Regions from separate parts of the Homo sapiens genome. Here region 1 is linked to region 2. The links come from fine-mapping of genetic effects on plasma protein levels. Region 2 holds a variant in brackets. A gene starts in the other region. All regions are shown on their reverse strands.

Region 1 (15,601 bases), not on the chromosome of region 2:
AATTAAAATAAGTAATTATTATAAACTGGGGCAAAGCAGTGGTCGCACAGAATCTAGGTGGGAGAAGCCAAAGAGAGTTAGTCTGATCGCAAGTAGGGCTTAAAGGTGTGTTGTGTCTGCATAAAATAGAGACATTTTTGATTTGGGGAAAGGCATTCTTGGTGGTGGTGGAGTGCTACACTGCTTATAAAACACTGTTTTGTTGATTTTATGTATTGGGATTACGGATCGAATTTCATTTGGGAAAAGATTTGCACTACTCAAAACATTTCTTTTTGGCAGGGAGTAGGGGAGGAGGACCACTGGGCCATTGGATTAGGTGGTCCCAAAGGCCCTGTCTGCCAAGGGAGCCTGAGAATTTATGATCTATGACGATAAGACTCCTCCATCTGTCTGTCTGTTCAACTGTCAGACCCCTATGGGGAGGGGTGACAGACAATATCCAGTAGGGTGTGGACTGAGTCTCCAGGAGCTAGGGGCAAAATCTTCCCTTCCGGATACTCCCAACCTAGGAGCTCTGTGGGGAGGAATTGTATCCCCAGATTCAGGAGATTTTGTTGAATGCAGGAATCATCTCAGGTTTTATGTCTCTGTAGTTCCAGGAAGATTTTACGATTGCTTTTTTGTTTGTTTGTAGACAGAGTCTTGCTCTGCCCTACAGGCTGGAGTAGTTGTACCATCATAGCTCACTGTAGCCTCAACCTCTCCAGCTCAAGCAATCTTCCTGCCTCAGTCTCCTAAGTAGCTGGGACAACAGCCACAAACCATCATGCCAGGCTAATTTTTTCTTAGTTTTAGTTGAGATGAGGTCTCTCCCTATGTTGCCCAGGCTGGTCTTGAACTTCTGGCCTCAAGTGATCCTCCCACCTTGGCCTCCCAAAGTTCTGGAATTACAGGCGTGAGTCCCGGGCCCAGCAATTGCTTTAACTTGAGATTGATCTGCCCAACTTTTCCCTCTGGCTACTCCTCATCACTCACATGGACACTTCCTGAAACGGCAGGAATTGGAGATGGGCAGTGCAGTCCGGAAGCCCCATCTGCTCTTAGCAGAGTGTGGCCACTCTGCAGTCAGCCCCAGATCTAGTTAGGGCTTCCTGGAGCCCCGGCCCCCTAGGAGCAGACTTCTGTCTTGTTTAGGTGGAGCTGACACCCCTAGGGCTGGAAAGTGGGTAATTTTCTTGTTCAGTCAAAACAGTCATATCCTACATGAGAGTTGGGGAACAACTGTATGGATTCTAAATTAATTCCTGGGCTGAGCTCTTCCCAAGGTAATTTGAAACGAGAGTGTTCTAACCCCCCTCCTGATCCCTCCCAACATCTCCTCCCTTCATGAGTCTATTCCCTTGTCTGTGAAATGGGATTATTAGGCTGCCATGAGACTTGACTACTTAGGAAGTCAGTGCTTCTGTGTGGTTTGTGTGTGGGTGGGTGGTGGTGGTGTTCCGGGTATGGATGGAGCCCGGCAGTGCAGGTGGCATAGAGGATGGGGCGGGTGGGATTCACAGCAGCTGCCCTGCTGGGTGTTCACTGGCATACTGGTGCGTTGATCATCCTGGACTAGTCCCTACCCATCTCCCTGCCTCCCTGTGGCTCTGTATCGCCCAAAGTGTCACCTGACCAATAGGAAGGGGCCTCTCAGCAACCCCTAGGCCTCAGAGCAGCCAGAGCCCCACCTACCCCTCCACGGGTCTTTCTCAGGCACAGAGCTCTGCCTTTTGCTCTGCTGGGGACTGCTGCCTCCTTGCGATGGAGATCGCAGGGGAGAGTGAATCCCGGTGGTCAGCCACTAGCTGAGCCCCTCTGTGTGCAGAACCAGGATGCCAGACAAGGGCACCTGCTCCAGTCTGAAGGGAGAGACCTGGCTTCTGCTCCTGGAAACCACCAGTCTGAGGGCGGACACATAGTCCTGGCTCATTGGGATAGGAGGGAACCAGGTCATGCCTTAGAGGACTCTATGACTATTAGGGGACCTAGCCCATGGCTGCAGAGTGCTTTCAATCTAAGCCAGAAGCAGCCCCTGCCCTGGGGAAGCCTCCCATCTAGCAGGGTAGATACAGTTGCTGTCCTCAGGAATTTGCCAATCTGATAGGAGAGGCACAACTCTGGCCTTGGGAGGGTCCCAGAACATGGAGCTGCTGATCTGCCAGCAAAGACACAGTCCTTGCCTCCAGGTGTCCCCACTGATAAGGGAGACAGTCCGGGTGAGAGGCCACAGGTCTCATTAATGAGAGGTGGAGGCCCAGACATCACTACTACCGATTCCAGCTCACAGATGTCAGCCCAAACCCACTAAGCTGACCCATGGGAGGGCCCTCACTGAGCAAAGCAGAAGGAGCTAGACAACCTGGGCAAGTTTTTTAACCTCTCTGGGCCCCAGTTTCCTCTCTTGTAAAATGTTAGCTGTCATGAGGATTGGGGAGTAAAAGTTGTTTTTTTTTTTTTTTTTAATTATTAAGATGGAATCTCGTTCTGTTGCCCAGGCTGGAGTGCAATGGCACGATCTCGGCTCACTGCAACTTCTGCCTCACGGGCTCAAGTGATTCTTCTGCCTTAGCCTCCCAAGCAGCTGGGATTACAGGCATGCACCACCATGCCTGGCTATTTTGATTTGTTTTGTTTTTGTTTTTTGAGACAGAGTCTTGCTCTGTCACCAGGCTGGAGTGCAGTGGCGCGATCTTGGCTCACTGAAACCAGGAGGCTCATTGCCTCCTGGGTTCAAGCAATTCTTCTGCCTCAGCCTCCCGAGTAGCTGGGACTACAGGTGCACACCACCACGCCCGGCTAATTTTTGCATTTTTAGTACAGACAGAGTTTCACCGTGTTGATTAGGATGTTCTCGATCTCTTGACCTCGTGACCTGCTCGCTTTGGCCTCCCAAAGTGTTTTTTGTTTTGGTTTTTTTGAGACAGATTTTTGCTCTTGTTGCCCAGGCTGGAGTGCGATGGCACAATCTCAGCTAACTGCAACCTCCGCCTCCCAGGTTCAAGCGATTCTCCTGCCTCAGCCTTCCGAGTAACTGGGATTACAGGCTCCCACCACCATGCCCGGCTAATTTTTGTATTTTTAGTAGAGACGGGGTTTTACCACCTTGGCCAGGCTGGTCTCGAACTCCTGACCTCATGATCCGCCTGCCTCTGTCTCCCAAAGTGCTGGGATTACAGGCGTGAGCCACCGCACCCGGCTGGGGAGTAAATGTTTATAAAGTAAATGGGACACAGAAGGGTGAAATAAACAGTAGTTGTTACTATGGGAAGGGGAGACAGAGGGAGTAAGGTGGCAGGCATGGGTGTGGTGGGGGCCAGGGAGTTTCCTGGAAGCATTTGTGCATCTGTGCCTGGGTGTGCAAAGGGGCAGGCGCAGGTGGCTGCGTCCTCTGTCCTCAGTGGGGTGATCGATGGCAGGGCAGGACTGTCCTAGGCCAGCCTGGAGGGGACCATTGTCCTGGCAAATGAGGTTTGGCTTCCCTGCAGGGGCAGCTCCATCTGCTTTTATTGTTTCCGACAGCAGCCTTGGGATTTTCAACCCACCCCAGACCTCACACCTTAAAAACCTGTACAGGGGCTTTGCGGGAGTTCATCAGAGGCCCCACCCATTCAAAGGCCTCCAGCTTCCAGCATTCCCCGCTCACCTGCTGAACTCGAGTCCTACCTCCTGCTAGATTATAGGTACTTGTGGCCCCTCTTCCTCCTCTCCTAGGCAATTTGTGGGTGGGGGAAGCAACCCTCAGCCTCCATATTCCTCAAACTTCATTATCTTGGTACCTAGACCATTTAGCTCTGTGTTTGTTTGGGTATCATCTACTGTTCTAGGTTCTAGGCCCAGAGCTTTATAGGCATTATTTAACTTGACCCTTTGAAGTATATATATATATATATATTTTTTTTTTTGAGACAGAATCTCACTCTGTTGCCCAGGCTGGAGTGCAGTGGTGCAATCTCAGCTCACTGCAGCCTCTGCTCCCTGCAACCTGTGCCTCCTGGGTTCAAGTGATTCTACTACCTCAGCCTCCCAAGTAGCTGGGATTATAGGCGTGCACCACACTTCCCAGCTAATTTTTGTATCTTTTTTTTTTAGTAGAGATAGGGTTGCACCATGTTGGCCAGGCTGGTCTCGAACCCCTGGCCTCAAGTGAGCTAGCTGCCTCGGCCTCCCAAAGTGCTGGGATTATAGGCATAAGCCACTGCACCTGGCCTGAAGTGGATAATATTTTTCAGATGGTAATAGCAACAATGGCTGTGTAGGAACATTAAGACAATGACCAAGGGACTTGCCTAAGATAGCCTAGTAGAGCAAGTGATAGAGCTGGGATTCGAACCCACAGCCATCTGACTCCTCAGACTCATCATCCCTGCTCCATCACATTCCTGGCCGAGACTGCTCCTCATGCTGCCATCCAGTAACCAACACCAGTGCAGCTGCTGTGAGTCCCAGGGAAGGTGGCATGAGCTGGGGCCTGACCCAGAGCCTGGTACACCTGAAAACCATTAAGTCCTGCAATGAGCTCCTTCCAGTTGCTCTGGGTTCTAGCAGGAGCCTCATCCCTCATAACCACCCCTTCAACCCCATCCCATCAAGAGAAGTCTTGGTGTTGGGGCATGGGTGGGTCATGGTGTTGGGGCATGGGGCGTTGTCAAGCTGGAACCTGGGGTGGCAGAGCCTCTACTGGCAAGGATTCAGCCATCCTCCCACAACCTTCTTCTTCTTGGGGACCACTGGCCACAGCGACTCACCCCTGAGAAGGAAGGCTGGAGTAGGGCATGCAGAGAGGGCCAGCGGAGCAAGAGGGAGGCAGCTCCAACCCACTGGGCCAGAACAGGGGTGCTCCTATGACCTGCCCCCCAGGAACATGCTCATGCCTCTGAGGGAAGTTCGGGGAGGCTGGGATGCAAGTCCCTGCTCCATCACATTCCTGGCCGACACACGTGAAGGAACTCCCTCTGGGTCCCACAGCTGCTAAGTGATCAGCTGGGCTTCAAACCCAATCTGCACGGCTGGGGTGAGCCACTTCGTTCTCTGGTCTCAGTTTCTACCCCTATAACAGGCACAGAGACCACCCTCATTTTCCAGAGTGATACAGGGCCTCAGTATCACAGGGGTTTCCGGGCAGCTTGCTCCCCCTCCAACCTCCCCAGCCAGAGGGCCAGCTCCGCCCTGGCCCCACCAGCAGGACCCAGCAGAACTCAGCAAGACACTGGGGCTTGCAGTTTTCAGTTCATTCCTGTGCCTTTGACCAGGAATCACATTCAATATAACAGGTGTGCACAGAGCCCCTACTGCGTGCCAGGCACTGGGACCACAAGCAGAAGGAGACCCAGCCCCCACCCAGGGAGGAGCAGACCCCTCCCAGATAGGGATTATGCCGTGCAGTTCACAAGAGCTAGGGAGGCAAGGGAGTGCCGGGGTGCTTCCCACAGGAGAGGACATCAGACCTCCTTGGTCAGCAAAGACAGAGGGCTGAGATCAAACACAGGGCAGGGCAGAAAGAGCCCTAGCAAAAGCTCAGAGGAGGGCAGACTGTGGAGATGGTCAGTTCTCCATCGTGGCTGCAACCTGGGACGCAGAGGGGACAATGCTGGGAGGCAGGCAGGACAGGGCTAGGCTGGGCTGAGGTCTCTGTAGTTAACTGAGTGGCCACAGTGAGCCACTGAGGACTATGGACTGGGAGGGCGATGAATTGAATAGTGGGGAGGAAGGCAGCGGAGAGAGCAGAGAGGACCTGAGCAAGGTTCCCAAGCCTCTGAGCTGGCTTTGCTGCAGAAGGCAGGGGGTAGAGATGGTATGAAGGGCCGGGTTCACCAAAGTAGGGCCTGTCTGCCAGGTCGGATTTCGAGCAGGAGCCTGGATGGGGGATGTCGTGGGGATATCCAGCCGTTCTTGCCTCTAAAGAGAAAGGTTCCAGTTGCCAGCCCTGGCTGTGGCTGAAATAAGAACTCAGCCAGGGGAGCCTGGAACCTGCCAGCTGGGAGGTTTCCCTCTTCTGAAGTTGCCCTCATTAAGACACTCAGGCCACGTCACTGCCAGACTCCTGGAGTGGTGTGTCACATGTTATGACCACCTAGACAGTGGTCAGGGGGCTTGGGCAAGCACACAGCAGGTCCAGGAGCCAGCAAGACAATCCCCTCAGAGGAAAGGAAGTGGCCTGTGAGCTGGTGCCGCTATTAAAGGCATCAAGCCAAGACTGAGGTTCAGAATTGGGGGTGAGTCACCGGACGCCTTCTGATGGGTGATCAGTTGTTGGCAACACCAGCTCAGCCACACTGATCTCATTTTGAAAAAAAGTGACCCATTGGCCCTGATTGTTTTAGCTGATTTTAGGACAAGCAAAGAGGAGGAGAGAGAGAAAGAGAAGAGTGCTTGCAAGGGTGTGGACGCCTGTATGGGCACGAGGAGGTGAAGGTGACAGGAAGTGTGATGGGGGAAGAGGCTGTGGTGGTGGGGTTACTCTGAAGTGTCTCTAAGCCTTGACTTTGAGATCCATTTCTGTGGAGCCCCCTGTCCCCACCCCATCCCAGGTCTGTAGACTCCCCTCCCCTCCCCTCCCTTCCTCCACAGGGTGTGTGAACCAGCACCAAGCGGCACCCCACAATTTCCACACACATCCCTATAGGTAGGGACTAGCACCATCCCTGTTTTGTGACAGGAACACTGAGGCTCAGAGAGGTGCATTCCTTTGTCCGAGATCACTCCCAGAGCCCCAGTGTACCCGACTCCAGATGCATAGTACTGAACCGGTTCCAGACACCAGTGTGTCACTGGGCTGGGAGGTGGGCAGCGTGGAGGGAGCATATAGGGCAGGGGAGACCACCGGGCGGAGAGGATGGCCCAGGGAGCACCCAGCTGAGGAAAGCAAGAAAGACTTGGCGGGAAACCCCAGCCCTCTCTCATCTCATACCCCGGCCCCGAAGGCGGCTGAGACCCTTGACGAGCGGACGGAGAAAAGCCAAAAGCCGGCGGTGGGGAGCAGGAGGGACAGAGCGGGAGACCACAGGCGAAAGACCAGCGCCGTCGGGGGAGCCAGGCTGAGTACCTTCCTGGGCACAGATGGGACGGCGCGGGGCCACCGGCGGTGCTGGTTCCGGGCGCACTCAGCGACCCCGGCCACACACCCCAGCCTCCTGGGCGGCCTCGAAAGGGGCTGGAGGGCACGCCCGCCAGCTCTGCCCGGGGCTCAGGGAGTCTTCGAAGACTTCTTCCAACGGTGGCGGACTGGGGCCCCCTGCCTGAGAGACCACCCGGAGACTCAGAGACAGAGAGACAAAGGGAGACTGGGTCAGGGAGAGAGAAGGCTAGTGCCGAGGAGAGTAGGTGCGAGCCGGGACCCCAGAGGGCGGCGAGGGCGCGCGCGAGGCCGAGTGTCAGAGCGTGGAAAAGTGGGCGTCCAGCGGTAGGTGGACGGATGGGGAGCCCGGGAGCAGAGCCAGGGTCCGTGGGCAGACGCGGCGAGGAGAGGAGGCGGCGGAAGGACTGGCGGATAGACGGGTCCGAGGGCTGGGAAGGAGGCAGCATCCTCACTTCCAGCCTCGGGACCCCGCGCACCCCGCCCCTGGGCGCGCCAGGTAGCCCACCTTTGTCCGGGCTCGCAGCCAGGTGGGGCGGGAGGGGCGGAGCCAGGGGCGGGCCGAGGCCGTGCCTTACCTGTCCGGCCGGCGGGTAGGGGGAGGAGGGGCTCGGGGCCGAGCGCCCGCGGGAGCCGAGCGCAGCCGAGGGCGAGCCGCGGAACGGGGCCGGCGTGGAGAGGTGCGCGGGCAGCCGGAGGATGTGCCCGGGCTGAGCGGGACTGGAAGGAAGGGGGAGTGGGCGGGCAGGAGGGAAGGGGGCGGGAGCGCGGGGAGGGGACAGAGGAGGGGCGGCGGGTGGCGGGCTCGACTGCCCCCAGCCGAGGGGCAGCCCCGGGGCCGGGCCCGGCGCGCACCCGGCCAGCGCGCCCTCGCCAGCTGCGCTCTGAGTTCTGGGCCAGCTCCCCAGAGGCCTAGGCGCCGCCGCCGCGAGGGCGCGGGGCAGACAAAGGAGGCAGACAAAGGCGGGCGCAGCCCAGCAGCCGTGCGGGCACCGGGCGAGGCAGGCCCACTCCTCCCGGTGCGTAAGAGCCGCCTCGGCGCGGCCCAGGGCGCGTGGGACGGGAGGGGCTCCGGCAGTTGTGGCGCCTCTGGAGCGGCCCCGCGCAGGGCGGGCGACAAAGGGCCGCGGCGGGCGGTCCTCGGTGGACCCCAACAATGGAGCGAGGCTGCGCGCTCAGCTGCGGCCGCGTCTGTCAGGGCAGGGGCCCGGGGCCACAAAAGGATTATTCCGCCTAGACTGTCAAAAGGGACGGAAGAAATGCCCAGGGCGGGGGAGGCGGGACGGGGAACGGCGGGGCCTTTGTAGCCGCAGAAAGTGCGCAGAGTGGGCAGGCGGGGTTCTCCGAGAGGTCGCTCCTGGATGTAGGGGTACAAAGGGTCTTCAAAGTGCTACCAGCTCACCTGGGGCGCTGACGGCGCACCTGTGCCCTCTTTCCCGGTAGGGAAGGGAGAAAGACAACCGCCCCAATACACACACACACAAACACACACACACACACACTCACACGCGGCGCGGCTCTCGCCACGCCCCGTCCAAAGCCGGCCTGAAGCTTCTCAGACCGGCCCAACCCGGACAAAGCCAGCGCTGGGGCCGGCTCATCCATCACCGCGCGGGGCGCCGTGTCCTGACGACCCTGGGAGTCTGAGAATGCTGGGTTATGGGTCCCGTGCCTCCCATAACTCACGACGGGGTCGGTGGGGCCACGGACGCTGCAAAGATCAAAGAGCGATGGGGCCGGACTCCCATATGTGGGAAGCAGCGCTCCCACCTGGCGCCCTGAGCTCGCCAGGTGGCTTCCATTTCGACTGTTTTCTTTCTCCAGCGTGTGGCAAATTATGACTTTGAGGTTTTAGAACACAGTTCTGCCGTCAGGCTAAATGTCTGTGTTCCTCTTCTGATGCCGTCCCCTATGACCTCGAGCAAGTCGCCTGACCTCTGAGCTCATGATTATACCTAAATTTCAGTGTTCTAGGCGTGAATGCAGTGCCCTGTGTAAGGAGATAACGTTTCTAAGGTCTGGCCCATAGGAAATGCTCCTGTAAAATTAGCTGCCATTGTTACCGTGATATTATTAGCTTGGTGGGCACCAGGATGGATTGATGAGAACACTGAACTGTTTATTCACTGAAAGGTTTGAGTCATCCATCCCATAAATACCTATTGAACACCTACTATGTGCCGGCACCGGAGGTACAGTAGTAAACAACATGGACAAGAATCCCTGCCCCCATGGAGCTCAGATTCTAGTGAAGGAGACAGAAGATAAGTGAACAAATAAATATAAATGATGTCAGGTGGTGATTAGTGCTATGAAGAAAAGTAAAGCACATTACAGACAAAGCATGAAGGGACGAGGTGTTGTTTTACATAAAGTTATTAGGAAAGGCCTCTTTGCTGGGGCAGTTCTTTTGGCAAAGAAAAGGAGGTAATGAGCCACGTGGTTGTGGGGAGAAGACTTGCAAGCAGAAGAGCCACTGCAAAGGTCCTGGAGCGGGAGTGTGCTTGGTGTGTTTGGTGGAGAAGAGTCAGTCTGGAACAGAGTGAGGTGACATCAGACAGGGAGCTGGGATAGGACCATGTTGTTACAGGAAAGGGGTCCTGACCCAGACCTCAGGAGAGGGTTCTTGGATCTCGCACAAGAAATAATTCAGGGCGAGTCCATAGAGTAAAAAGTTTATTAAGACAGTAGAGGAATAAAAAGAATGACTACTCCATAGACAGCACAGCACCAAGGGTTGCTGGTTGCCCATTTTTATGGTTATTTCCTGATGATGTGCTAAACAAAGGGTGGATTATTCATGCTTCTCCCCTCCCCCCGCCTTTTGTTTTTCTTTTTGAGAGGGAGTCTTGCTCTCACCCAGGCTGGAGTGCAGTGGCACAATCTCAGCTCACTGCAACCTCCACCTCCCGGGTTCAAGCAATTCTCCTGCCTCAGCCTCCCGAGTAGCTGGGATTACAGGTGCACACCACCATGCCCGCTAACTTTGTGTTTTCAGTAGAGATGGGGTTTCACCATGTTGGCCAGGCCGGTCTTGAACTCCTGACCTCAGGTGATCCACCTGTCTCAGCCTCCCAAAGTGCTGGGATTACAGGCTCGAGCTACAGCACCCAGCCTTTTTTTTTTTTTTTTTTTTTTTGAGACAGAGTCTCACTTTGTTGCCCAGGCTTGTATAGTGGCACAGTCTCGGCTCACTGCAACTTCTGCCTCCCAGGTTCAAGCGATTCATGCCTCAGCCTCCCAGTTAGCTGGGGTTACAGGCACACACCGCCATGCTCAGCTAATTTTTTGTATTTTTAGTAGAGACAGGGTTTCGCCATGTTGCCCAGGCGGGTCTCGAACTCCTGACCCCAGGCAATCTGCCTGCCTTGGCCTCCCAAAGTGCTAGGGTTACAGGGGTAAGCCAGTGTGCCTGGCCTTTGCTTCCCCTTTTTAGACCATATAGGGTAACGTCCTGATGTTGCCATGGCATTTGTAAACTGCCATGGCACTGGTGGGAGTGGAGCAGTGAGGATGACCAGAGGTTGGTCTCGTGGCCATCTTGCTTTTGGTGGGTTTTGACAGGCTTCCTTACTGCAAACTGTTTTATCAGCAAGGTCTTTATGACCTGTATCTTGTGCTGATCTCCTGTCTCATACTGTGACTTAGAATGCCTTAGCCATCTGGGAATATGGCCCAGCAAGTCCCAACCCCATTTGACCCAGCCCCTACTCAAGATGGGGTTGCTCTGGTTCAGACACCTCTAACAATGTGAGCCTGCAAAGGCCACAGGGAGGACTTGAGCTTTTTAGAGGGACCATGAGCAGAGCAGAGACATGATCCGACTTAGGTTTTTAGCAGGTTTGCTGATTGCTTTTTCTTTTTTTTTTTTGAGATGCAGTCTTGCTCTGTTGTCCAGGCTGGAGTGCAGTGGCGCGATCTTGGCTCACTGCAACCTCTGCCTCCCAAGTTCAAGCGATTCGCCTGCCTCAGCTTCCTGAGTAGCTGTGACTACAGGCACCTGCCACCATGCCTGGCTAATTTTTTGTATTTTTAGTAGAGACAGAGTTTCCCCATGTTAGCCAGGATGGTCTCGATATCCTGACCTCAGGTGATTCGCCAGCCTCGGCCTCCCAAAGTTCTGGGATTACAGGCATGAGCCACCGTGCCCGGCCACGTGTGCTGATTCCTAAGGTTGGGAGTAGTCTGCAGTGGGACAAGGGTGAAAGCAAGAGACCAGCTAAGTACTGTGGCAGAGAAGAGATGATGGTCACCTGGGCCTGGGAGAGGGGGCAGTGTGCAGCCAGCATGATTTGCGTCGCCAAGGATAGAGCTGTGGGCCAGTATTCATGAGCCAGGAGAAAAACCTTGGAGTCTCTGGTTCAAATGCTGCTACTGTGGCTGTCCCCTGGCTGGGTGATCTTCCGATGTGCTTGGAGCTGGGGTGACACAATATGAAAAGGTGGATGTTAGGAGAGGCCTGGACTCCTATCCCATCCAGTTTATGATGACTTTAGGGCCTCAGTTTCCTTGTCTGTAAAATGAGGTACTTGAGGGGCCAAAGCAGGCTCCAATATTCATCAACTGATGACTGGATAAGCAGATGTGGTCTATCCATACACGGGAGTATTTTGGTTCTACGAAGGAATGAAGTATCAATATGTGATTCGACCTGGATGAATCTTGAAAACATTATGCTAAGTGGAACAAGCCAGACATAAAAGACCATATTTTGTACAATTACTTTTATATGGAATGTTCCGTATTGGCAAGTCCAGGTCAGGCGCAGTGGCTCATGCCTGTAATCCTAGCACTTTGAGAGGGTGAGGCAGGAGGACCTCTTGAAGCCAGGAGTTGGAGACCAGCCTGGCAACATAGTGAGACCCCTTCTCTACAGAAAATTTTAAAAATTAGTCTGGGCGTGGTGGCTCATGCCTGTCATCCCAACACTTTGGGAGGCCAAGGTAGGTGGGTCACCTGAGGTCAGGAGTTCGAGACCAGCCTGGCCAATATGGCAAAACCTCATGTCTACTAAAAATTTAAAAATTAGCCAAGCGTGATGGAGGTCGCCTGTAGTCCCAGCTACTCGGGAGGCTGAGGCAGGAGAATCGCTTGAATCGGGGAGGCAGAGATTTCATTGAGCCGAGATTGCACCACCGCCCTCCAGCCTGGGTGGCAGAGAGAGACTCCGTCTCAAAAAAGAAATAAATGAAATAAAAATTAGCTGGGTGTGATGGTGCACACCTGTAGCCCCAGCTATTGGGGAGGCTGAGGTGGGAGGATCGCTTGAGCCCAGGAGGTTGAGGCTTCAGTGAGCTGTGATTGCGTCACTGCACTCCAGCCTAGATGACAGAGTGAGACCCTGTCTCCAAAAAATAAAATAAAAAAATAAAAAAATTGGACAATCCATAGAACAGAAAGTAGATTAGTAGTTTTGGAACTGATGTACCTGGCAACACACTTTGGGCATGAACAACCCTTCTCAAGACATCAGGAGTGATGAAAATGTTCCGAATTAGAGAGTAGCGATGTACAACATTGTAACTATACTAAAAATCACTGAATTGTACCCAGGGAAAATGTGAACTTTATGGTTTGTGAATTATATCTCCACAGAGAAGTTTTTTTTTTTTTTTTTTTTTTTTAAAGTGGCAGTTGAGCTGGATCAAAAGTTCTTACCTTGTGGCCCAGGATGGCTTCTGAATATATCTGGACACTCCTGATGTTGTGTAAGGCATTTAGTGTCTCTGGGCCGGGCGCAGTGGCTCAAGCCTGTAATCCCAACACTTTGGCAGGTGGAGGCGGGCACATCACTTGGGGTCAGGAGTTCGAGGCCAGCCTGGCCAACATGGCGAAACCCCGTCTGTACTAAAAGTACAAAAAAATTAGCTAGGCGCGGTGGCTTATGCCAGTAATCCCAGAGCTTTGGGAGGCTGAAGCAGGAACTCTGGAGGCCAAATGTTCAAGACCAGCCTGGGTAACACAGCGAGACCCTGTCTCTATGAAAAAAGAGCAGATGATCAGTAAGGTCCCCCTGACCACTGAGGGGTCAGCAACACTGGGAATCAGTAGAACCCCACGGAGGGAATGGCAGGTGAGGGCTTTGCTCTGGCTGAAGTGTCGGAAGCCATCTCAGGTCAGCAGTGAACCCTGGGATCTGGGACAGCTGTCCAGGTCAGGCCTCACACCAGAAGGCAGATGAGAGCGGAGAGGAGCTGTCAGCAGGAAGTCCTTGTCTTTAGGCATCTTGTTCCGTGATGATGCGTGTCCTCCCTAGGGCACCTTGGGAGTTGCCTGCTGCCTTGGGAAATGGAAATGGAGCTATGGGGATGCCGCTAAGGATGGTTTGGATGGGGTTTTGAAAAGTGTGACAGCTTGTCCAGAGGGTTTGTTCTGGGGGCTTAAATAGTGTATATAGACCTTAATATCATTGTCATAACAGTCATTAATTGAGCATTTATGTGCCAGGCATTGTGCACTTTATTTATTTGTTTATTTTTTGAGACAGGGTCTCACTTTATAACCCAGGTTGGAGTGCAGTGGTACAAACATGGCTCACTGCAGCGTTGATTTCCTGGGCTCAAGTGATCCTCCCACCTCAGCCCCCTAAGTAGCTGGGAATACAGGTGCACGCCACCATGCTCAGCTAATTTTTATATTTTTTGTAGAGTTTTTGCCATGTTGCCCAGGCTGGTCTCGAAGTCCTGAGCTCAAGTGGTCCGTCCACCTTGGCCTCCCAAAAAGCTGGGATTATAGGCGTGAGCCACCATGCCTGGCATTGTGCACTTTATATTTTTTATAAACATGAACATGGACATAAACATTTGCTCTTTGCTCAATCCTATGAAATTAGAACTACCATTATGCCATTTTACAGATGAGCAAACTGAGGTTCAGAGAAAGAAGGGCCTCGCAGCTGGTTAAGGGGCAGTGTTGGGGAGAGAAGCAGCAGGTTGGACACATGAGCAGGCCCAGTGGGTGCTGGGGACACCATAGGGAACATGCCACAGCCCTTGCTTTTGTTTTTGAAAATAGCTTTTCTCTGCATAGTGCCACCCATAGCCCGGGCACTGAAGTCGACGTGTTTTGCTCCTCATCCAGACTCAGTTGGGATTCAAGTCAGGCAAGTGGTAATGAGCCACTGTCCACCATCACTTCATTCCTCTGCCATTCATTCTTTCATTCACTCATTTGACACACATTTGCTGAGAACCTGAATTCGGGCTGGGCATGGTGGCTCAAGCCTGTAATCTCAGCATTTTGCGAGGGTGAGAGGCAGGAGGATCACTTGAGCCCAGGAGTTCGAGACCAGCCTAGGCAACATGGGGAGACCCTGCCTCTGCAAAAAATTTGAAAAATCAGCCAGGTGTGGTGGTGCACACCTGTAATCCTAGCTACTCAAGAGGCTGAGGTAGGAGGATCCCTTGAGCCCAGGAGTTTCAGGCTGCAGTGAGCTATGATTGCCCCACTGCACTCTAGCCTGGGTGACAAGGAGAGACCCTGTCTCTGGGAAAAAAAAAAAAAGAGAGAGAGAGAGAGAACCTGAATTTGGCCAGGCACTATATTGAAATAATGAATGAGGGCTGGGTCCCTGCCCCGGAGCATTGCAACTGGATGGGCCCCTGAGCGTCAGGATATCAGGAGATTGTCACCAGGCTATGTGTGTCTCACTCTGTATGTCCCCCATACCCATGTGATTGGTGTCCTGGGAACCTTAGGCAGGGTGGGAGAGCTGATTCATTCTGCCATCAGCCTGGTGGGGATGGGAGGGGTCTTGGAATCATTTCTGGGGTCTGGAAACTTCATTGCCCGGTTCACTCACTGTGGGTTTGTTCCATAAACCCCAGCAGTCCTCCTCTGCCCGAGCAGGTCTTCCTCTTTGCTGGGCTGGTGCTCACAGCTCACCTTCTCAGTTTCCATTTCAGTGTCTCTTGGGAGTGATTTTCCCTCCGTCCCCATCAGAGATCCTCAGGGACCTGCTCTAGTTGGCAAATAAACTCTTGCTCCCCCTAAACACCCATCCTTCCTTCCCAGCCGCCCTCCTACATATTGTCATTATGGTGAAAAATATGCAAATAACTTTGAACAACAGTCTCCCAGCAGACGGATGTTCAAAAATGTAATAAATTAACCCCATAATGTAATCTGGATCCCACAACCATCCATCATGCTGATGCGATTAAGATATGCAAAACCAGATGCTGAAGAGCGCATGGATGGAGTGTTGGCAGAGCTCCCCGGATGGGCCCATGCTGACTCGGCCCCCTGCCCCTGCCCCCGCCCCCATGGAACCTGAGGCCATCAGAGGTTTAGGGAACATCTATCTGGCCTGTTCATTTCACTAATGAGACTGAAGCCTTTTAGGGGTTTGGGGTCAGATGGGTTTGAATCCCTCCCCATCTGCTTCCTAACCCACCTTCCTTCTGTTTGTGATTGGATCTGAACCCAAGGCCCCAAACCCAGACTTTTTTTGTTTTTTTGAGATGGAGTTCTCGCTCTTGTTGCCCAGGCTGGAGTGCAATGGTGCGATCTTGGCTCACCACAACCTCCGCCTCCCGGGTTCAA
Region 2 (15,601 bases):
TCATGTAGAGGGACAGCTAGGGCTGAGGGCACTCAGGGAAATGTAGGCACGATTCCATGTTCTTTATGCAGAGAGGGCTGCCGGAGACTTTGTTGGATGCAGGGGCTTTAATTGAATTGGCTTGCCAATAAAGCTGTTGTCATTCAGTAAGTGAATTTGTTGTACTACTCGAAGCACAGCTGCTGCAGACGGCCCGGAATTTCCTGAAGGCAAGCCAGGCCCTCGGCTCGCCTGGGTTCTGCCTTTTCCATTGATCCTGAAGGCCATGCAGAGTGTCCCCCTTCAGGGCTTGGTTTTGGCACTGATTTGGATGCCATCAAGGAGCATGGGCAGGCTGGGATTCAGCAGGAACCTGGAGAGCCTGTGGGGTGTGACCCTAGGGGTTTATAGGGAAGAGATAACTCAGGAGTGTTAGGGGTGGTAGCTATCAGGCAGGAAAGGCCTACGTACCACAATTGGGTATTTTTTCAATGTCCAGAAAGAAGCTGCCTTTGGCTCCATCAGGCTAGTCATAAGAGAATATCACTTCCCATTGTAAAAAAAGAAATTGAGAATATGACAGTTAATATATTTGTAGGGCCTTGTTTAAGAGGTCAAGTGGTATTGAGAAAATGCAGTGGCATTAGAACTGGCATTTGTTACTAGGAGATCGTTGGGCCAGAAATGCTCTACTGCTCCCACAGTTTATAAAACACAACAAGATTGGCAGGTTGCATGATTTATGATGGCTTTAAAGTAACATCAAGATTAAGGAAAGTTTTTCAAGGGACTGCAGGCCATTTTTATTTTCTGCATCCACGCACATGAGTGTAGTGGGCTCAAGTGACTAAGAACAAGAGTGGGAGGAAGATTTTCATGTTTCTGGTGGTGTCCTTACACTTTAAAATAGGTGGGGATTGCTCACTGAGCTCTTCATTCAAGGGATTTTCCCCCTTGTAATTTGGAATGATCTGAGCAGTGCTTGAGCCTTTTCAGGGAGCCTACTGTCCAATTGCAGTGGAGGGTTCATAGAACACAGGGATCCCTGGTCTACTTTCAATTAGTCAGGACTAGAGGATTTCCCAGCTCTTTACACCTCTTCTCCAGGGTCTGTCTACCTTTTGGCTGTTTTGTTGTCTCCTTTACCAGGACGCTGGAGAAGAAGGACCCTGTAAGTCAAATGTAGTTTTTGTTTGAACCCTAAAATTCTGACAGCCCAGAAGCTCTTTAAAAGAAGCCTATGTATTGGCCCCATTAAACTTTTTTTTTTTTTGATCCAGGGTCTCGCTCTGTTGCCCAAGCTGGAGTGCAGTAGTGCAATCATGGCTCACTGCAGCCTTGACCTCACAGGCTCAAACGATCCTCCCACCTCAGCCTCCCAAGTATCTAAGACTACAGGCATATGCCACCATAACTGGCTAATTTAAAAAATTTTGAACAGACTGGGTTTCCCTATGTTACCCAGGCTGGTCTTGAACTCCTCAACTCCTGATCCTCCTGCCTTGGCCTCCCAAAGTGCTGGTATTACAGGCATGAGCCACTGTGCCTGGCCTTGGCTGTGTTTTGATATGGCAAGTGAGAGTTGGTTTCCTACATCACGTATGCAGCTTTGAAGCTTATAAGGAAGAAAGATGGTGGAAACTCAGGTGAGAGAGGCTTTGGGACTTGGTATCGACATGAATATCCGGCTGGTGTGAGAGAGAGTGATGTATGTGTAGGTGCTCCTGTGTGTGTGTGTCCGTGTGTGTATTTTTGAGAGAGAGAGGTTTGCTTCAATGCCTAACTTTGGCATGAAATAGAGAAAATGATGCTCCTTACTCTAATAAGTAAATCTGTTGACAATACTTTTTGCTAGGTACAATCACATCTTTGTAAACTCTTCCCGCAAATCAAATCATGACAGAAGATGTGGCCATGGAAACAAAATCATTACTGTTTTGTTTCAAGAAGGTGGACTGAACCACAATTCAAGTGGAAGGTCCATCTTCTGAAGTTTCTGGCTTATACTAGTACTAGTTTTTTTTTTTCCCCCAAAATGGTTAATTTTTTTTTGTTTTGGTGAGACAGAGTCTTGCTCTGTTGCCCAGTGGCACAATCTCGGCTCACTGCAACCTCTGCCTCCCGGGTTCAAGTGATTCTCCTGCATCAGCCTCCCAAGTAGCTGGGACTATAGGTGCATGCCACCATGCCTGGCTAATTTTTTGTATTTTTAGTACAGACGGGGTTTCACCCTGTTAACCAGGATGGTTTCGATCTCCTGACCTCGTGATCGGCCCACCTGGGCCTCCCAAAGTGCTGGGATTACAGGCGTGAGCCACCGTGCTCAGCCGCTATCTACTTCTCTTCCTGTGTTTTCTGTTCTCTTTCTTCTGGGCTTTGCATTCTTTCTACCGTTCCCTACTCCTCCTCCCTGGCCTCCCAGGTCCTCCCTGGCCTCCTGACTTCCCCTTTCTTTCATATCTCTAAGTCTTTCCCTCTTGATTTCATCATATATCAAACTATCTAATAATAGTATTAAAATTTTACTTGTCTTTACACACATGATTTCATTAACTTGCTTCTCCAAGTGATTATTCTTTCTCCTTTTGCGTTGGTGGGGTTTGCGTAGCTGTTCCTCTTTGAGGAGGCCACCATGACTCTGGCGATTTGCTCTGAGACGCTACTTTCCACCAACTACCATATTGGGTGGAAGAGGCAGATCCAATTTTTAACTTTCTAAGGTAATAAATTCAGGAAACCCCAGCTGAGGCCAACTCACAATATCATTCATTTTGGTTTCTACTTTTCATAATTGAGTGCCTTTTTGTACTTCTCTTTGATAAGTGGAGTTAACATCTCCATGTGAACTGGAAAAGCTAAGTTGGTGGTAGTCCCTTGAGGATTTTGTGTCTTGCTCTGACACCTTCATTGACTTCATCAGAATTTAGATGTATTAAGGGATCAAGGAGTTGCACTTATGTGCATGAAGTTCTCAAGGTGTTTGGAGAGCCTGTTCCTAAGCCAAGTTCTGATGGTCCCTAGGAGAGAAAACTTTTTGCCAAATGAACACAGTTTGATGGAAAAGTTCATGACAAGCCAACATAATACTTTAACCATTTTCTAGCAGTGACTCAGCAGTTATGGAAAATGACTATGGGAAAAATACCAAAAAATTCTTCTTTTCTGTCTTCCCCTACTTTGATAAGCATTCTTTTCACTTCTCCTTCCAAGATTCAGAATTGTACTTTCATTCCCTTGTTGCTTTTCTTCTCAAACTGGGGAGTGTCGAGTGAGGTGGTGGTATCCTGGGTGAACCCTGGGCTGTAGGATAAACATGGCAACTTTCATGGAGCATTTATTTTACTTATGAATTTTTGAGGAAAATGTAATTAATGGAAAGATCATCATTACATGATGGAGTCAAATGCAAAATTGGCATTAATGTTAAATAAAGCAGGAAACTTCAAACTTTGTTGTTGTTGTTGTTATTGCTGTTTCTTGTTTTTTTGAGCCAGAGTCTCATGCTGTCACCCAGGCTGGAGTGCATGGAGTGCAGTGGTGCTATCTTCGTTCACTGCAACCTCCATTTCCTGGGTTCAGGGGATTCTCCTGCCTCAGCCTCCTGAGTAGCTTGGATTACAGGCACCCACCGCCATGCATGGCTAAGTTTTGTATTTTTAGTAGAGACGGGCTTTTGCCATGTTGGCCAGGCTGGTCTCGAACTCCTGACCTCAGGTGATCTGCCCACCTCGGCCTGCCAAAGTGCTGGGATTACAGGCGTGAACCACGGCGCCTGGCCAGGAAGCTTCAAACTTCTGTTTGAGGTTCTCCAGTTCAGCCCCCATCTCACGGTCTCCAGAAGTAGGATTCTGCTCTTCAAAGGGGTGGGGAGGTGCATGACCCTGGAACCAATTACTCTAGTGGATTTCTTATCAGAGCTAACACAGATTATTTGTCTGACAGTGAATCTTAACATCCTTGGGGCATGGATCTTACTACATCTATAATGTCAACTTCAGTCATCCCTACTAAAGGCATTAGATATTTGCAGTTGTGTTATCTGCAATGTAGGAAGGGCAAAAGTCTTGGGTCAATTTTAACTCTTCTTAGTTTACGAAAATGTCTGGAGTACATATAGGCAACCCATAGTCATTTGGGGACTTGTCGTTTGTGTGTGGATTATCTCAGCTTCTTATGTTCCACATTTCCACTTACCTGCTTTTGGACATTTCTTCACTCATTAGGTTATTTGTGATGAGTCAAATCCCAAATACACAATCCCAGATCAGGCTCAAGAAAGACATGCAGAGTATGTGCTCTTGGCAAAGGCCTCCTGATTTCCACAGGGCTTTGACCCCATGCTCGATGTGAAACTCCTTTTCCCGCTGAATCTGCTGCACCAGCATGGGTCTCAGGATTCCCTTAACCCTCCGGTTCAAAGCCAGCCTCAAAGCAGTCTAATAGTCCTCTTAGTCCTTAGCCCCACACTCTGATCTTGGTCTGTCAAGTTTCTCTCTTGGAACAAGAGTAAGCACAGATCCTCAGGGAAGAGCAGGCAAAGAGGAAATTTCTCTTTGAGGCCAGAGAAGAGTTGATCCAGGGTGCCCACTCTTGGCCAACCCTCAAAGGTAGTGGTCCCAGGCTCATCTTGCCCCTCCATGGCAAGTGGGTGCTAAGTGAGAAGCATGAATAGATGAAACCCCAAATAGCACCCTGAAGCAGACATCCGCACTTCCTCACCCTTCTCTCCTCATAGGCAGAAACTTGGGGGTGGGAGAGGGGGAAGAATTAGGGTAGCAAGGCAGGCATGTTGGGGGCAGGGTTGGAAGGAAGTTTAATGTTCGGATGTGTCAAGTTTCTCCTTGTGGCTGGAGTGTGAGACTAATATTTTGCCCCTACCAAAGGAAGGCCATGGCTGATAGAGACAATGATATTACATGCAATGCTTCTTTCTTTTCTTTTTTTTTTTTTGGTTCTTAGGTGTGGCAAAATGGCTTTGTTGTGGTGGAAGATGAATTGTCGTCTCAAGGGGGCAGAGGACTGCCTGTGAGCTTCCTTAACATGGAGCCCGAAACCGGTGTTTGCACAGTCCTTGAGGAAAGGGTTTGCTCAGCAAATTAACAGTGTGAACAAGACTGCAGGAGGGACCATTTACCTACCTGAGAACAAACTGTTTTCTAGCTCTTCAGCAGCACCACTTACGCACAATTTTCATGTGCTAATGGCAAGTGATTATTACCTAGTTAGTGAATATACGTGGAAGACATAAAATAGCCTTTACTATCCCCTGGTTGAGACAACTCGCTAACTCAGACTTGCCAGGTGCTCTGAATTAGAGAGGTGCTACAGGAATGTCCTCTCGGATTTTTGGCGTTGAGCATGCATGCATGTGAGCAGGGTGCCATTTCTTCAGAAGAAAAATAAATGACAACATTCTGTTTTGGGGCTTGAAACTGCATGACTGAAAACATAAAGGTGACAACTGTGATATGCTTTTTTAATGAGGGCAGAGATGTCAAGAGAAACCAGCCTTCTAGGAACAAAAGAATACTCTGTCAGGTGCAGTGGACTTAAGACCTTTTTCTCTCTTGGAATAATGTCCTTAAAAATAACCAAATTTTCCATTCAATAGAAAAATGTTCATCCCTTCCTCCCCATCAATATGAATTGTTGTCTTGGAGCATGGGGCACTAGCAAGCCATATTGATTTTGGAAATTAAAATGGGAATGTTGAAGAGCGTTTTCAAAGAATTATATGGGATTTTAGCCATCTGAATGGCTTTCTTTTTAGGGTCAGTGAGAGTATTCTGGCTAAAATGTAGCCCATTGCTTTAGAAATAGTTTCCTTAATGTCTTTCCTGTCGCCCCTGCTGGGTCTGTGCAGGAAATGTAAACCAACATACAATATGTGTGTTTATTTTCATGTCCCATTTTATGGGAAATTGGATGGGGTATTCCACTGAGGCTTCAGCTATGATGTGTTGACAATATAGGGGGAGCAGGGAAGACTATTGCTGAAAGAGTTTACAAGGGAAGAAGGGGGTTCTATAACCTTTGAGAACTATGGGGAAGAGCCAGGCCTGCCAGCGAGAGCTCCGTTACTCAGGGGCCAGAGGGAGGCATTCAATAATGAAACCGGCTGGTGAGTTGCTCATCCATTAAATGACATCCTCACCAGCCAGCCCCAGTTTCCAGCACAGTTGGGATGTTGTGCCACACCTCATCTTGTGAGATGTTATGTCTGATACTGTGTGGTCTTCCTGCCTCTGCTGGCCATAGGAAACTCAGGCTACCAAACACCCAATCCAGAGTCCATAAGGGGTCACTAACTGGGTGGGGGGCAGAGTTACCCGGAGGACCCCTGCAGGAATGCAGAGGTTAGAGATTGTCAAACCAGTCATATCCTGGCCTTGTGCAGGTGGTGGCAAAACTGAACCTTTTCCTGGGATCCTACTGGAAAAGCAATTTAAAAAGTGCCTGGGTAGCACGGGGCCTGCTCAGGGAGTGTGGGTCCGTGTATTTCCTGTAAAATGTTTGAAATCTCAGCGTTAGGCCCATCTGTAAGACAGCAGTAGGTGTCAGTGGGAATACATGTTTTTCCTGCAGAAGAAAAAAGTTAGCATGTTTGCATTTTAAGCTCATAAACAGCTGCAGCCTGGACCGCCATGGCAAGCACGTTGGGGCTGGAGGAGCTGAGAGCTGCTGTTTGCCGGTGCACAGCAGCAGTTTCCAGTTGTAGACTGAAATATTGTATATATCTCCAATTTCAATAGGACTTTGTTTTGTGTTTCTAAACAAGGAAATTGAGGAGTGTCAAATTAATTTTTTAGTCCTGGTCATTTTTTAATTCCAGTTGGCCAGCTCGGCCTGGATTTGTACAAATACCGATTCCAGAAAATAGTTGAAGTACTAAACTTAGTAAATAAATGTGTTTATCTTTCAAATAGATTCAAGATGAAATACCCAGCACTTCTCCAGGGCATTTCTGTCCCTGCCTATTCATTTTAGCAGCTTGACCAAACTAATTCCCTTCCCTTAGTGTAATATTTAAATGGACTTCTGGCATCTGATACATTGCCTGCTGCTCCAATTCCCTAAGAAAGTCATTTAAATAGATTTTGACTATCTTGCATCTACTATAAAGCCAGTCAACTAAAAATCCTGGTCACTTCTCTCTAATTTTAGATGAGCCATGTGGAATTATTGGCTTTTGAGAAAATTCATCTTATCAGAGCTGAAAGTTTTGGATTTAATTTTTAACTATCTTTTTTTTTTTCTTTCCCAGCAAGAAAAATGAATGAAAAGACAAATAAGAAAGTGTTGCCATACAAAGTTAGCGAGCTGTCAGATAGATATAACTACTAAATGAAAGTCCACATTAAACTTTTGGGGCAAGATTCTCACTCCGCCTTCCCTCAACTCCAAGCCTTTGCTCCACTCCACTCATGCCCAATCTGAGAAAGGAAAAGAAGCAAGTTTGACACGTATCCTGCCTTCCAGGAATTTGCGATCCAGTTGAAGAGACAAGCTCTACCCATTCAGAGGGTGGCTTGTGTGATTTGGGTTTTCTGCTAGGCACAGGATGAGGGGTGCAGAGGGGAGTGGGGGAAATAGATCCTTATGTATTGGCTGGGGACCAGGACTTGGGGGTATTATAATAAGTTGGCCTGAAGGAATAGCGAGAGGTGGGTATGTGAAAAGCAAGCTGATAACAGCATAGAGATGGCAAATATAAGGGGAAAGTGGCCACAAAAGTGAGCAATGGAATGCCAGGTGCAGTGGCTCACGCCTGTAATCCCAGTACTTTGGGAGGCTGAGGCGGGTGGATCACAAGGTCAAGAGATTGAGATCATCCTGGCCAACATGGTGAAATCCCGTCTCTACTAAAAAAATACAAAAATTAGCTGAGCGTGGTGGCACGCACCTGTAGTCCCAGCTACTTGGGAGGCTGAGGCAGGAGAATCACTTGATCCTGGGAGGTGAGAGTTGCAGTGAGCCGAGATTACGCCACTGCACTCCAGCCTGGTGACAGAGTAAGACTCCATCTCAAAAAGGAAAAAAAAAAAAAAAGTAAGCAATGGAGAGCAAAAGGTGGAGGTGGTGGACAGGGACTCGGCCAGTCTGACTGCATCCCCAGAAAGAGAGAGGACCTGGTGGAGAGTGTGGGGCTATGGTGGGGAGGCCTGGAGTGTCGGGCCAAGGACTTTAGATTTTTTGTTGTAGCCAGTGGGACGGGATTGTCATGAGATGTGGTGGAGGACACAGAAACCTGAGGCAGAGAGGCTCCTGTTCTCCACACTCTGGGGCCTTGGGTGGTGCTTATGTTAAATCATGACATGAGTCACCAGAAGGAGAGCCACCCAGATGCGGGAGGGCAGAGAATCTCTCTGAGTTGGGAGTAGGGAGAGAATGCTGCAGACTGGAGTTGTCTGGGAAGGTGTCTTGGAAGACGAGGATTTTGCCAGGTGAAAGGGAGTAGTAGGAAAGTTATGGTATTTTGAACCATCTTCTACTACAGGAAGATGATTATTAAAGCAGCACTAGACCCTACCTTGGCTGTCAAGATGCATGAATAAAAATACACTTGTCACCA[T/C]ATTTACTTCCTGTTCCCTTTCTTCCCGTTTAAAATAGTAATTGATGCTTTCATTTTTTAAAACAGATGTTCTCCATTTTTCAGCATGTTGTGGGGTTGCAGAGTATGCGTGGGGCAGCAGCTGGTGATAACATCTTTTATTTTTTAATTTTCTGGCTGTGGATTGGAATTAGAATCAGGATTTAGAAATGGGGAAGCCGTGGCTTGTGGCCTGCATCCTGACGTCTTACATTACATCTCAGGTAGCAGTTTGTCCTTATGAATCAAACCTGCCATGCTACTGACAAATAGGAGGTATTTTTATATGATGTAAGTTATACCTGCTTGTGGTAAAACAAAACCAAACCAGAAGGTTTCCTTTTCTCCTAATTTGTCTCTCCAGAGGAAACCACTGTTAACAGTTTGGTTTATATCCTTTCAGTCTTTTTTCCTTTTCAGATAATAACAGTGGTAAGAACTAACCTTTACTGGGGAATCTGGACATGCCAGACACAATTCTAAGTGCTTTACATATATGAACTCATTTAGTCCCTGTGCCAGTCCTCTGAGGCAATATGACTGTTTTCCCCATTTGAGAGATAAGGAAACTGAGATGTTAAGTAATTTTCTGGAGCTCACGTAGGTAGTAGGCAGTGAAGCCAGGATCAATATCCAAGTGTTTTGAGTCCTAAATCTGTGCTCTTAGTTATGACTTTATGCTGCTGCCATGAATATGTATAGTGCATATACATATTACTACCTAGTTCTTAAAAAGATGAAATCATACTATAAGTGTTGTTCTGTGGTTTGCTTTTTTGATAAACATTAATACTGGGGACATTTCCCCATTTCAGTATATATAAATTTAATTCTTTTTAAAATGTACCTACAATTATACTGATGTAGCATCATTTTCAAAAACGATACTCTTCCTTCTGGCCATTTGGGTTTGCTCCAGATTTTTGCTATTATAAACAATATTACAGTGAACCTCTCAACAATAGCAGTAGCAACAACTACCATTAATCCTGAATAATGTGCTTACTGTGGGTGGGGTCCTATTCTAAACCTTTTCCATGTATAAACTCATTTAAACATACATCTTTATATAAGTGGGCTAGTGTTTCCATAGGCTAGATGCCTGGAAGAGGGACTGGTAGGTTAGAGGCCAAGTGCATTTAAAATTTTGATTGCAATTTTCCTCCCCAAACAGGCAAGTATTTATTAAGTGTCAGCTCTAAGTGCAACACCCTCTTAGGCATTCTTTGGAATGCACAGACACATGAGATAGGGGCCCTCCCACAGGTTTACAAGAGTGGAGAGACAAGCTGGTACAAGTCGCCAGGTGATGAAAACAGTCATTCCACAAGGCAAAGCTGGTGGCATATGCTGGGAGCACTACAGGTGTGTAGAGAGCAGGGAGGTCTGTGAGGGGTGGAAGGTATCAGGGGGAGCTTCAGAGAGGAACTGGGGCTGAATGAGGCTTGGAAGGATGGAAAGATGGAGGGAAGGGGTTGGAGAGCAATCCTGGGGAAGGGCCAAGAAGAACGAGGCTTAGGCGGGAGGTGGTGTAGTTGAAGAATGAGACAGTGAGTCTGTGGGATTGCCATCCTGACTGAAGCAAAGAGTGTGTTTTGGGAACTGGTCAGCCAGCCGACCATCAAGAGAAGAGTAGAATAAGAGTAGAAATGGACATCCACCTGTCACATGACTAAATTGTTTAACCCAAATAAAAGCTAATCAATTAACAAATAAAGCTAATCAATTAGCTTTATAAATGAAGCTAATCAGTTGCTAAACTGTGCTCTATTCTTCTGCCTTGACATAAGAATCTTTGACCTGGAACAGGTTTGAATTTAGAATTTTCCACTCCATGGACTATGGCACTGGAGGGTGGTGAATTACATTTCCCGATCAGTGCCAACAGAAAGAGAATAGGGCTTGTGATAATCAGATATATTTGCCCAAATCACTTGGATAAGTTTTTCTCCTCTGTCAATGCTGAAGCACGCTGGTGCTGGAGCAGGAAATCACAGCCCAGAGAAGGTGAGCAGGTGCCCTGTTCACACAGAGCTTGGAAGTTCTAATCTCTGACCTGAAGTGAGACATTGAAATAGAAATCTTTCTCTTCCTCCTCCCTCCTTACCCTACCCCCAGCCAACAAAGAAAGAAATGCAGGTGCATTTAACTTTGCCTGTAACTTTCTGTTCTGCAATGAAAATGGCCTCCTGTGTTTTTGTTTCACAAGCACAATTAAAAGTCTAATTTCAAAGCTACAATAGGGAAGCAAGGGCGTCAGTAAGAAACCCAGAACTTGATGCAAATAATTGAGCCATTTTTAATTTGTTCAGTGTGATCAGGTAGGGGGAAATTCTATATTTAAATATAACCAACCACCTTGAACCTTGTATGGAAGTAACTGTGTAAGAAATGTTTGGTAACATGTTGCTGAAGTTGTAAAATGTGTACCTCCCAAAACAAGGATATTCAAAAGTTAAGTTTCTCACGGTGATGTTAACACATCCGCATCGCGTTGCACATGCTGTACAATTCTGCATCATAAAAAATGGATTTACAAGCTTAAGTACTACTCGGGAATATTACATGTGTGGAATGTGGCTGGGTTAATGTCACTGTGAGACCCTTAGCCGTTGCCAAGGAGGTTTCCTGAGCCTCAGCTGGGGCCAGGCGGGGGCAGACTGGAGAAAGCCGCTGCTGCCTGGGCCTGCAACTTTGCCTAATGAACAAAAACACCATTTTGGCCTCAAAGATCTTGAGCTCCACAAGCCACAAATCACAACGAGGAAGAAATCAAACATTAAGGTTTCTCTCGGATTATTATTGACCAGGACGGTCTGGAAATTATAGGATCTTTCTAAATGTGGGCAGGGGCTTCCGTGAGGTCCAGCAACACAGTGGCATTTGCTTTTACTGCTGCTATTTCTCTGTTTCTGGTTTTACTTACTCTGACCCCTCTCCACACCAGAGCCGGTGTGAGAGCTGCTGTCACCTGGCCTTTCCCAGAGCTGGAGGGAGTCCCTGGGGGACGAGTTGGGTGGCAGGTGATGCGTGTAGACTAGGATGTGAGATTAACTCCAGTCCGAAAGGGCCCTGGGATAAATTACACATGTCCGAACATATCCATAGAGGAGGAGTTGAGTGGAAATAGGCTTCAGGGGCAGCCAAAGAGGGAAAAACATGAGGACATTGTGTGTGTGTGTGTGTGTGTGTGTGTGTTGCTGTAATGATGGGAGGGAGGATGCAAGGCAGGACTTACGGGTCCTAGCCAGCTGTGCTGCACCTGGTCCGTGAGGCAGTGTGGAGTCCACCGAAACGACCCTCAAGCCTGATGCCAGTTCCAGAAGCCCAGTCGGCAACTCTGCCACCTTACACTCCTCTCCCCGTGGAACTGCCTGGGGGTGCTGGCATGGGGACATGAGGGATGTCTGACAGGAGAAACAAGCATTTCAAGAGTGTGTGGTTGGCTTCGCTGTCCTTTGGGGGGAGGAACTGGAATCAGTCAACAGGCAAGTAAGTTGTTATTGCACACCTTTTATGTATTCTGCTGGGCCGTGGGCTGCGGAGGGCACTAAAGGGGTAGAACATCCTGCTCCTCTTGAAGACGCCCAGCCTTTGGTCCCATGACCTCAGGCACATGCGTAATCTAAGCGGCAGCCCAGAACTCATGACGGGTGCCCAGTTCCTTGATGCCTCCTGAAGGAAATGCTGCAAGCTGTTCAGAGGATGGAGACTGCATGGGGGTGTTCGTAGGCAAGGAAGGCTTCAAGAAAGAGGCAGCTCTGAGCTGCTTTTCAAAGAAGAGAGGATTTAGACAGGCAGAGAGAAGTGGGGATCACTCAATAGAAGTAAATTCCACAAGCTCTGATCTCTATCCCTAATAGGGAACGGGGCTCCTAACAATAGCTTTTTTTTGTGGTCTGAATTCAGGCCCGACTCCCAGTTCCAGCCTGAACACTGGTCAGCTGAAGACAACGCTGCCACCTTCATCTCTTCCCTGCCTGTCCTGCTTACAACAGTTGCAAGAAGTTTATACCCACATTAAGCCCCCAGAGGCAGGCTGGCAGCCAGCCTTCGCCACTGGTGCAGAGAACTGAGTCAACCACCCGGTGTTCCTGGCTGCTCCCCCTGAGAAGCTTTCCCACCCTGTTCCCTGAGTCGAGAGTCTTGGCTGGGCACCTGCTGCACTGTGGACGTGCGGACGCGGCCTCCAGAAGGGGGAAGGGAGCCCTGGCTGGCTTCTCTGAGACGTGTTGAGTGGCTTGCCATTGAAGACTGTTTCCTCACTCAGGCAGCTGCATGCCCCAAGTGAGTGACTTCCTCTCTCTGGACTCAGTTTCTGAATCTGTAGACAAAGAGGGTGGACCAGATGGTCTTGGAGGTGCCTTCCAGGTCACATCTCTCCTGTTTCTAACAGCAGGTGGAAGCAGGTGAGGAGGGCAGTCGGGCAGAGAGGAATGGAGAGGAATTCCCCCACAGAGGCTCTTGGGAACCACACAATTCCCCATTCTGGTGCCACCTGCTTCAAGGATGTGAGTGAGAGCAGTGCTGGCCTTGAAGCCTACATCGGTGGGTAGTCTAGCCTCCCTAGATGTGTCCTTAGGTGTCATGGGATCCATATCTGGATCATCAAGGAGACCTCACTTAGGCTTCTCTTGACTTACCAGGAAAGGCTAAGTCTTGCTTCGGGCAGGCAGCTGCCTCTGGGGCCCGGGCCTGTGGCCCCAGGGGAAAGAATTGTTGCCCCAAGATGCTCATGCAATGTTGTGTGACTGTGGCAAGGCTGTGCCATTTTAGCTGGGATCAACACGCTAATGGGCACAGGTCCAGGGGGAGTGCAGGTGCCTTCCTGGGTGCAAAGTGGCCCTCATCCCCATAGCACACAATGTCTGCACAGCTGAGGCTGGAAGGGACTGGCTGAGGGCCGTGCTGGTGTGGGCAGATCCCTGGAAGATCACCTGGGCCATCTCCTCATTCTAAAGATGAGAAGAACGAGGCTTGGAGAGGATGAGTGTCTTGTTGAGGGTTGCACAGCAAGTTGGGGACACAGCTGCAGGAAATCCAAGTCTCCTGATTCCTAGCCCATGATATTTTCTCTCCCACCAAGTTGAAAGGCTGAGGTGATGGGAGGCCTGGCATACCACAGATGGAAACTTGCATCGTTGCCCCCGGGGCTCAGATGATTCTCTAAAAATGTGTCTGAGGAAGTGAGAGTGCAGGGCCTCTCCTCACACGTTGGAGCTGTAAGTAGGGCACGTGCTTTCAGCTCCAGGCAGGACTGGAGAAGGTTATGGAAGGGCAGCCAACCAAGAAGCACTTATTTAAGCATTTTTATGTGCCTAGCCCTGAGCTAGGCATAGTAGGGCATAAAGGAGCTTTGAAGGACCCTCCCAACACAGCAATTTCACTGCAGCTGGTGAGCAAATTTAACTCACAAATCAATTACAAAAACAACCTCATGCAAGCTACTGTTTGTGTAATAAAATGTAAGAACATATATTTGTATTTGCGTAAAGGAAATCTGGAAGGATATAAAAAGATAATAAAAGTGTTAACTAAACAGTTACGTGATGGGGTGGGGGTGAGATTTTTGTCCTTTGTACCTTTTAATTACAAAATTATTTTGAACTATGTGAATGCATTTTCTTTGCAAAACATTAAATACAAACAATAACAAAAAACCCAGACAACTAAATGTGAATTGGGTGGCAAGGGGCCAAAGGGATTTGGGAAAAGCAGAGTTCAGAAGATGTCATAGAGCTGATCCAGGTTTCTGGAAGGCCAGAACTGGAAGAGACTGTTGGCGTTATTTTGTCCAACTTCCCATTCAATGCTCGTGTGTTTTGTACAACAGCCAAGACATGGACCTTCGAGAGTCCCTCACTCAATAATTCCTAAATGCTATGGCATGACAGTGCTAACCTAGGGGTCACAATGCACAGATAGGTCGGTCCCTGTCTCAATGGCCTTATGTTCTCCAAGTGTACCCTTGACTGAAGTGCCAAGGAGATTCTGATTCCTAGGGAAAAACAAGAAACACAGGAGTTAAAGGGCTTGGAAGGAGGATAGAATTAGGGAAAGCAGCAGAGTTTAGTTAGGATTTGAAATAAATCTCAAAGGAGGGGTCAAGTTTTGACAATCGGAGGACAGGAGTACCAGGTGGTAGGGATATGGATAAAGATAGAGATAGAGGCATGTTCTCAGGATTAGCAGGGGACTAGGCCAGGTAGGGTGGAATAGTAGGGTGGGAATCTGGGTGAGTATATGTTGTAGATTGTATTGACTGTCAGTTTGAGCTTTTTTTTTTTTTTTTAATTCAATAGAACATGGAGAACCAATAAAGATTCCTGAGCATGTGCTTGAGTCATTCTTCTTGAAATTCTCCAGTGAGTGGGAACTCCCTATTTCATCCAAGAACTCATGAGGATGAGCTTCTTGGAAGCAGTAGGAATTGATCTGGGGCTTCAAGGATCAGAATGTCGAAGGTACTCTGGGTGGAGGGAAGAACGAGTCTAGTGTTAATGCGCACTGGGAAAGGATTTTGAGCATGAGAGAGCATATCCATGCTGTGCGTTGGGTAGACAGCTCTGGCTGTGCTATCTAGGATAGGCTGGAGGAAGGGTTGCTTGAAGCAGCATGACAAGTTAGGAGTCCCTCACAATTGTCCTAAGAAGAGATTCTGAAAGCCTGACTTAGGAGGTAGTAATGGGAGTGGAAAGGCACACTGGAAAGACTCATTCCTCTCCTATCCCTGAGGTCCTCTTTGCTTGGATTAGAACAAAACAAAACAAGACAAAACAACCAACAAACTTCTGACTCACTTGCCAGTCTCAAGGGAAGAGACTATCCTTAGCTCAACAGTCCAAGATCTCTGTTTACTAGATATTTTCCTGGGTCATTTCTTTATTTCCTGTGCCACTGGCAGGGGGTGGCAGCTGTGGTCACCCTGGCCCTGGTGTTTTTTGGCATTTTGCTGCAGTTTAGATTGTGTTGATGGTAGGATAAACATTTCCATCCTTGGGCATCTTGTTCCATGCCAGAGGAAAGGTACTC

Which allele goes with the higher level. Alleles are on the strand shown, and positions count from the first base shown. The strength of an association depends on the size of the effect and on how common the allele is.
In carriers of allele T in region 2, the plasma level of the protein whose gene starts at base 7,779 in region 1 tends to be lower than with C alone (moderate association).

What was found. PIP is the posterior inclusion probability: the model's chance that the variant is causal. Protein levels are from antibody-based Olink assays in UK Biobank. Linkage for the fine-mapping came from a reference panel and not from the study's own genotypes, which makes the PIPs less certain.
Region 1: DRAXIN starts here. The variant in region 2 is fine-mapped to the plasma level of the DRAXIN protein (UK Biobank, PIP above 0.99).

The regions. Positions count from the first base shown.
Region 1 is chr1:11,683,888-11,699,488 of GRCh38, reverse strand. It overlaps DRAXIN (dorsal inhibitory axon guidance protein), which reads right to left and starts at 7,779. Exons shown (of 7, transcript NM_198545.4): 1 at 7,636-7,779. It also overlaps a transcript of MAD2L2 not described here. RefSeq lists enhancers at 8,464-8,971, 8,972-9,481, 14,345-14,845.
Region 2 is chr2:60,349,186-60,364,786 of GRCh38, reverse strand. MIR4432HG (MIR4432 host gene) reads left to right here. Exons shown (of 2, transcript NR_132992.1): 2 at 4,939-5,571. Among named protein-coding and RNA genes, the nearest start is that of MIR4432, 30 kb to the left of the region's middle. RefSeq lists enhancers at 11,086-11,135, 11,276-11,355, 11,836-12,335, 13,106-13,185. The variant T/C (reference allele first, on the strand shown) is at 8,552.